Linked DNA regions of Homo sapiens: region 2 is linked to region 1. The links come from fine-mapping of genetic effects on gene expression. A gene starts in region 1. The other region holds a variant in brackets. All regions are shown on one strand. Distances are between the middles of the regions. Region 1 holds the start of SLC41A3 (solute carrier family 41 member 3). Region 2 overlaps SLC41A3 (solute carrier family 41 member 3).

Region 1 (2,911 bases):
GACCCAGGCCTCTAGGCGCCCCGTCAGCACCCCAGTGCGAACACATCCTGCCCGGGGACCTGGACCCAGCAGCTCACACAGACCAGGGCTCGCCCAAAGGCAGGCAGGCAGGGCCACTGCTGACCACGCACCTGGCTGGTCGTGATTCTGGAACTAATGGTTTCTGCCTGGCAGGGAGGCCGCCAGGACCTCTGGGCTTCACCCCTCCCCACCTTCACAGGGGACCTCGCCTCAGTGGGAATGTTCTGGAGCCGGAACCCAAGGTTGGAATCCCAGCTCCTCCCCTTTCTAGGTCTGTGACCTTGGAAAAATTAAACTTTCTGTACCTCTGTTGCCTAATCTGTGAAATGGGGTAATACTACCTACTGTGTAGGGCTGTGAAGATTAAATGGAGTCATGCATTATCATCACAGGGCACCTGGCCCATCCTCAACCCCAGTTCAGACTCCTCAAAGCCCTAAGGTTTCAGATCAATGGTCAGAACCACGAGGAGGACCTGCTAAAGACAAGTATGGGGACCCACCCCCAAGGTTTAGGATTTAGAAGGTCAGGGTGGGGCTGGGGAACCCGCATTTCTAGCAGATCTCAGGAAAGGCAGTGCTGCTGGTCCTGGGACCACAGTTTGAAAACCACTGGTGTAAAAAAAGCCTTCTAAAAAAAAGTGGGATTTGATCACTAAAGTCATATGGAAAAAACTGGAAGAAAGAGGAAAAAATAAACAAATAAATAACGGGATTTTAAAGAGACCTATCCCACCGGCTCTCCTGGATGGAGAGAGTGTGGGACTCTGAGACAGACTCCCGGCTGGGCACCCCCAGGAGGTTTTCTTCACCAGAGGTTTGCACCGAGCCCACCCAGGACAGTGGGCTGAGCCTGTGGTAGAGGCTGGCGGGAGGTCTGGCTGAGGCAGCGAGGGGTCCCTGCGCGCGGGCGCTGCAGGAGTCACGCGTGTGACATCCAACCAGGAGCCGTGCCCTGAGCAGGCCAGGAAGGAGGAGACAGGGCCGCTGAATGCACACCGCAGCGGTGTGGGGAGCGGCCTCAGACACCTAAGGGTAGGACCGGCCGGCTCCCCCGCGACCCCCAGCGCCTGGGTTCTCTCCCGGCCTCCCCGAGGCGTGGCCTACCCCAGGCATGGCCCCACCCCGCCCCAGGCCGCCCCTCCGACCCCTCGTGTTTACCTCATCTCCCGCGCGCCTTTCCCCCACCGAGTCCCCCAAATCCCGGTCCCCACCTGACTCCCCCTCCCGCCGAGCCCCCAGGGCCCGGCGCCCGGCTCACTCGCCTCCCGCGCACCCACTCCCGGGCGCCCTCTCCCGCGCGCCTCCCCGACCCCCCTTGGGCCCCAGCTGACCCCACCTTCCGCCCCAACCCCGCCCGGAACAGGGCCGCGCTTACCGGGTCCCCTCCCAGGCGGCGGCGGGAAAGAGGCGGGCGGAGGACGCAGGGGCGGGCCTGCGGCTCAGGCAGGAAGCGGGAAGGCCGGGCCTCCCTGGCCCCGCCCCGGCCGGGCGGCCGGACCTCGGACGACTTGGCGCTCCGGGACAGCAGCAGACGCCCAAGCTCCGGCAGCGCAGAGCCCCGCCGGGGGCCCGGGGGGCTGGGAGCCGGGGATCGCGGGGACGGAAGTGGGGGACCGAGTCTCGCGAGCCCGGGCCCTCCTCGCAGCTGGGGCCCCACTGGCGCCCCCGCGGGAGCGCTACGGGAGAGGCGCCTATGCGGCTGCAGGTTTTATTATGGAGCTGTCAAGGTAGAAAGGTACGGAGAACGGGAACCCACCGACAGCCAACTTCCCTTGGGACCCGCCTTTTGCTTTAAAAACAACAACGACAAGTCTGTGCTTCACCCCACACATGCCTTTCGTTTTCCCTTTTTTCCCAGAGTAATTTTAAAGCATCCCAGTGGATAAATTCTCCTTTAAATACTCGAGTATGTTTAATCAGTAAGGCCTATTTTTTTAAACATTCTCATAGTATTACGGTCACACCTAACGAAATTGGCAATTCCCAGTCCGGGCCTGAGGGAGGCCTGATGGTTCACAAGACTTGGTAAAATATATCATTATATTTTAAACCAAAAAATAAATGATAAGGCACCTCCCCGTTCCCAACCACCAAATCATCCGAATGGACTTCTTCCTCAGCCAGGACTTTTAGAATTTAACCTGAAAAACTGGTTCAGGCCATAAGGGGAAGTGGAGGCCGAACATGCCTCATTATCCCTCTCCTGCATTAACATCAACACAGACTTTAAGTCTGATAAGAAACATTTTACAGCCTCTTCTCTCTGAAGCCTGCTACCCTATCCGAATACTTCATCTGCGTGATAAAACACATTGGTCTCCACAACCTCTTAACCCAGACATTCCTTTCTTTAATCCCAGGTCTTTGGACAAACTCAACCAATTGTCAACCAGAAAATGTTTAAGTTGACCTATACCCTAGAACCACCCTCCCCCTCTTTGAGTTTTCCTGCCTTTCTGGATCAAACAAATTTATTTCTTAAATGAACTTAACTTGAAGTCTCATGCCTCCTCAGAATGTATTAAACCAAGCTGCACCCCGACCTCCTTGGGCACATGTTCTCAAGACCTCCTGAAGGCTGTGTCACTGGCTGTGGTCACTCATATTTGGCTCACAATAAATCTCTTCAAATATTTTACAGAGTTTGACTCTTCCACAATAATTTGGCACCCAGCGTGGGGCCTCAGAGAAGACTCAGGACCCCAAAGGAGTTGCCTGAACTCGGAGCGAAGATACCAGTGGGGCCCATTGAAGCCTCCCAGACTTCTAGCTTCTCCCCCGATGGAACTGGTTAAGTTCTCCTGAGCCCCAGATCGCCCTTTGGTTGACAGTCCTTCGTTTAGTGTGAGCTGGTTTTTCTCCTAGGAAGTTGTTGTTTAAGGATTCTA
Region 2 (2,911 bases), 72 kb before region 1:
TGAGATTCAGAACTTTCATCTCTACCCAGTGCTAATGGGGCCCCCACCTTGTCAGTGAAGCCATGTGGGGAGCAACAACAAGGCATCTTTCCCTGTCCCAGCCAAGGTGGTCTCAGAGGAGGCCTAGTGAGGAACCTAGATTGCACTGTGCCCAGCAATAACAAGGTGCTCCTCTTCTCCCAGGATAGCAATAGAGGCTGAATGGTGAACCCAGTCTTCCATCCCCACCTGGGCAGCAGTCCATCCCTTCTCCCCAGTGGTGCAGTGTCAAAGGAAGCCAGCTAAGTAGAGATTCAAACATGATCCAAAGTCTTGTCCATAATACCCAAAATGTCTGGATTCAAATGAAAATCACTCATCTTACCAAGAGCAAGAAAAATCTCAACCTGGATGAGAAAAGACAACCAACAGACAGCAGAGTGAGACGACACAGACGTCAGCATCACCTGAAAGCCGTTCTAATGAAGCCACTACAACAATCCTTCATCATGCAATCACAAACCCACCTGAAACAAACAAAAAAATAGAAAGTATAAGCAAAGAAATAGAAAGTCTCAGAAAAGAAAAAGAAGATAGAAAGAAAGAAGAACCAAATGGAAATGTTAAAACTAAACACATACAATACCCCCAAAAGTCCCAGACAACTCAGTGAATAGGCTCAATAGCAGAATGGAGAGGGCAGGGGAAAAAAGATCAGTCAACTTGGAGAAAAAAGTGATAGAAATGAGCCAATCTAAACAAGGAGAGTAATAGACTTTGCAAAAACCAAACAGAGTCTCAGGGACTTGTGGGGCTGTAACAGAGGATCTAACATTCATGTCATTAGAATATCAAAAAGAAGGAGAGTGCAGCTGAAAAAGTGATGGCTTAAATTTTCCGATTTGACAAAAGATATAAATCCATGTGTTCAAGGAGCCTAACAAACCCCAAATAGGATAAACCCCAAAAAGTCCATACCAATACATATCATAATCCAACTCCTAGAAACTAAAGACAAGGTCTTGAAATATGCAAGAGAGAAATGGCACCATACCTATACAGCAAAATAAATTGAAATGGCAGATTTCTCATCATAAGTCATGGAATCAGAAGGAAGTGGCACATTTTTCAAGTGTTTGAAAACAACTATTGACACCGAATTTTACAACCAGTGAAAATATCCTTCAGAAATGTGCCAACAGCCAACCCAAAAGAAGGCTAAAGGTAGTTCTTAGAAAGGAAATCCAAAACAAT[G/GT]TAACAGGAAAGAAGATCTGATTTTTCAAAGCCAACAAAAAGACACAACATCTCCAAAAGCTTCCAGTGGTTCTGAGTAGAATCCAGGTTCCTTCCTCAACTCCAAGGCTCTGTCGGATCACCTCCTTCCGGCCTCTCTGGCCTCAGCCTCCTTCATCCCCTCCTGTCCATTCAGCTCAGGCCACATTGGCCTTTCAGTTCTTCAGACTTGCCACACTCCTTCCTGCCTCTGGGCCTTTGCTAGACTGCACCCACTGCCCTGAAAGCCCCTTCTTCTCTTGCCCTCCTCCTCCCAACAACACCCACTTGTCCTCAGGGAGGAGCTTCCTTATCCCAAGTGTATTTCCTCTAATTCTTTTTCACTGCACTCTGCACTTTTGCTGCTCGGTACCCAACATAATTTTTAATTACGAGCCCACTTGTGTTTATCTGCCCTTCTATACTGTGTACTTCAAGGGCAAGAAATCAGCTCTCCCTGTTTCACCACTAACCTAACACCTAGTGCCCAGTGGACATTCAATAAATAATTGAATGAAGGAATGAAGGAAAGGCAGGGCCGGGGAGTCTCATTTCTGGGGCCCTGAAGGTGATGTGTGCCGAGATCAGCCCTGGCTTCAGGCATCCATTGCTACAAACACCAGATTCCAATGACACCGATGTTTTCTTGTTTAAAGAAATGGCTATCATGGCCTCTGAAAGACATGACACCCACCTGACGTGCAGAAAGTAGAACACGGGTTGGGCCAGAATTTCTTCATCTGGAGGGGCAGGACGCCAGGTGCACTCCACATGTGCAGGTAGGTTGAGATTCGGCTGGTCTGAATGGCCACCAGATTGCCACCAACACCTACGAGGAGAAAAGGAATCTGTTTTCCCTTTCTTTACGCCAGTCTCTAAGTTGTATCCCTTATTTTAAGTTCCCTTCCTCCAGGAAGTCTTCTTTGGTTAATTCAGTATTTCATTATCTTTTCCTTTCCTCCCACTTGACCACAGATCTTGTTTGGCAGCAAGTCAGGGTGGCCCAGAGCTTGTGAGTGAGGTATCCAGGGAGTAACTGCATCACCTTGACTGCTGGCATCTCTTAAGGTGAGGGGAGTGCGGCTGTAAAGTAGGTTCTCAATAAGTATTTGTTGGCTGGAGCGAGGATGGGAGGGAGGGGATCCAGGGACAAAGTAAGGATGAGGGGAGAGTGGATAGAAAGGTCTGAGAATAGTGTGATAAGGCAGTCTGGATAAGTCAGACCTCAAGGCCACAGGCATTGACAGGAAACAGACTACAGCCTGGAATATCTGAGAAAATGAAAGTGATTTTTTTTTTTTCACTCAAGGTGGGAAGGAGAGAGGAGGAATGAAGACAGTGGATAAGAATGAGAGGGGGCCAGGCATGGTGGCTCATGCCTGTAATCCTAGCACTTTTGGAGGCTGAGGTGGGTGGATCATTTGAGGTCTGGAGTTCGAGACCAGCCTGACCAACATGGTGAAACTCTGTCTCTACTAAAAATACAAAAAAAATTAGCTGGGCATGGTGGTGCACACCTGTAATCCCAGCTACTCAGGAGGCTGAGGCAGGAGAATCACTTGAACCCAGGAGTCAGAGATTGCACTGAACCAAGATCACGCCACTGCACTCCAGCCTGGGTGACAGAGTAAGACTCTGTCTCAAAAAAAAAAAAAGAATG

The links.
Region 2: its variant is fine-mapped to the expression of SLC41A3 in whole blood (TOPMed, PIP 0.97).

The regions. Positions count from the first base shown.
Region 1 is chr3:126,082,695-126,085,605 of GRCh38, forward strand. It overlaps SLC41A3 (solute carrier family 41 member 3), which reads right to left and starts at 1,430. Exons shown (of 11, transcript NM_017836.4): 1 at 1,399-1,430. It overlaps ALDH1L1-AS1 (ALDH1L1 antisense RNA 1), which reads left to right and starts at 1,521. Exons shown (of 8, transcript NR_190231.1): 1 at 1,521-1,758. RefSeq lists silencers at 1,078-1,187, 1,228-1,777.
Region 2 is chr3:126,010,670-126,013,580 of GRCh38, forward strand. SLC41A3 (solute carrier family 41 member 3) reads right to left here. Exons shown (of 11, transcript NM_017836.4): 9 at 1,946-2,080. Among named protein-coding and RNA genes, the nearest start is that of ROPN1B, 43 kb to the left of the region's middle. The variant G/GT (reference allele first, on the strand shown) is at 1,234.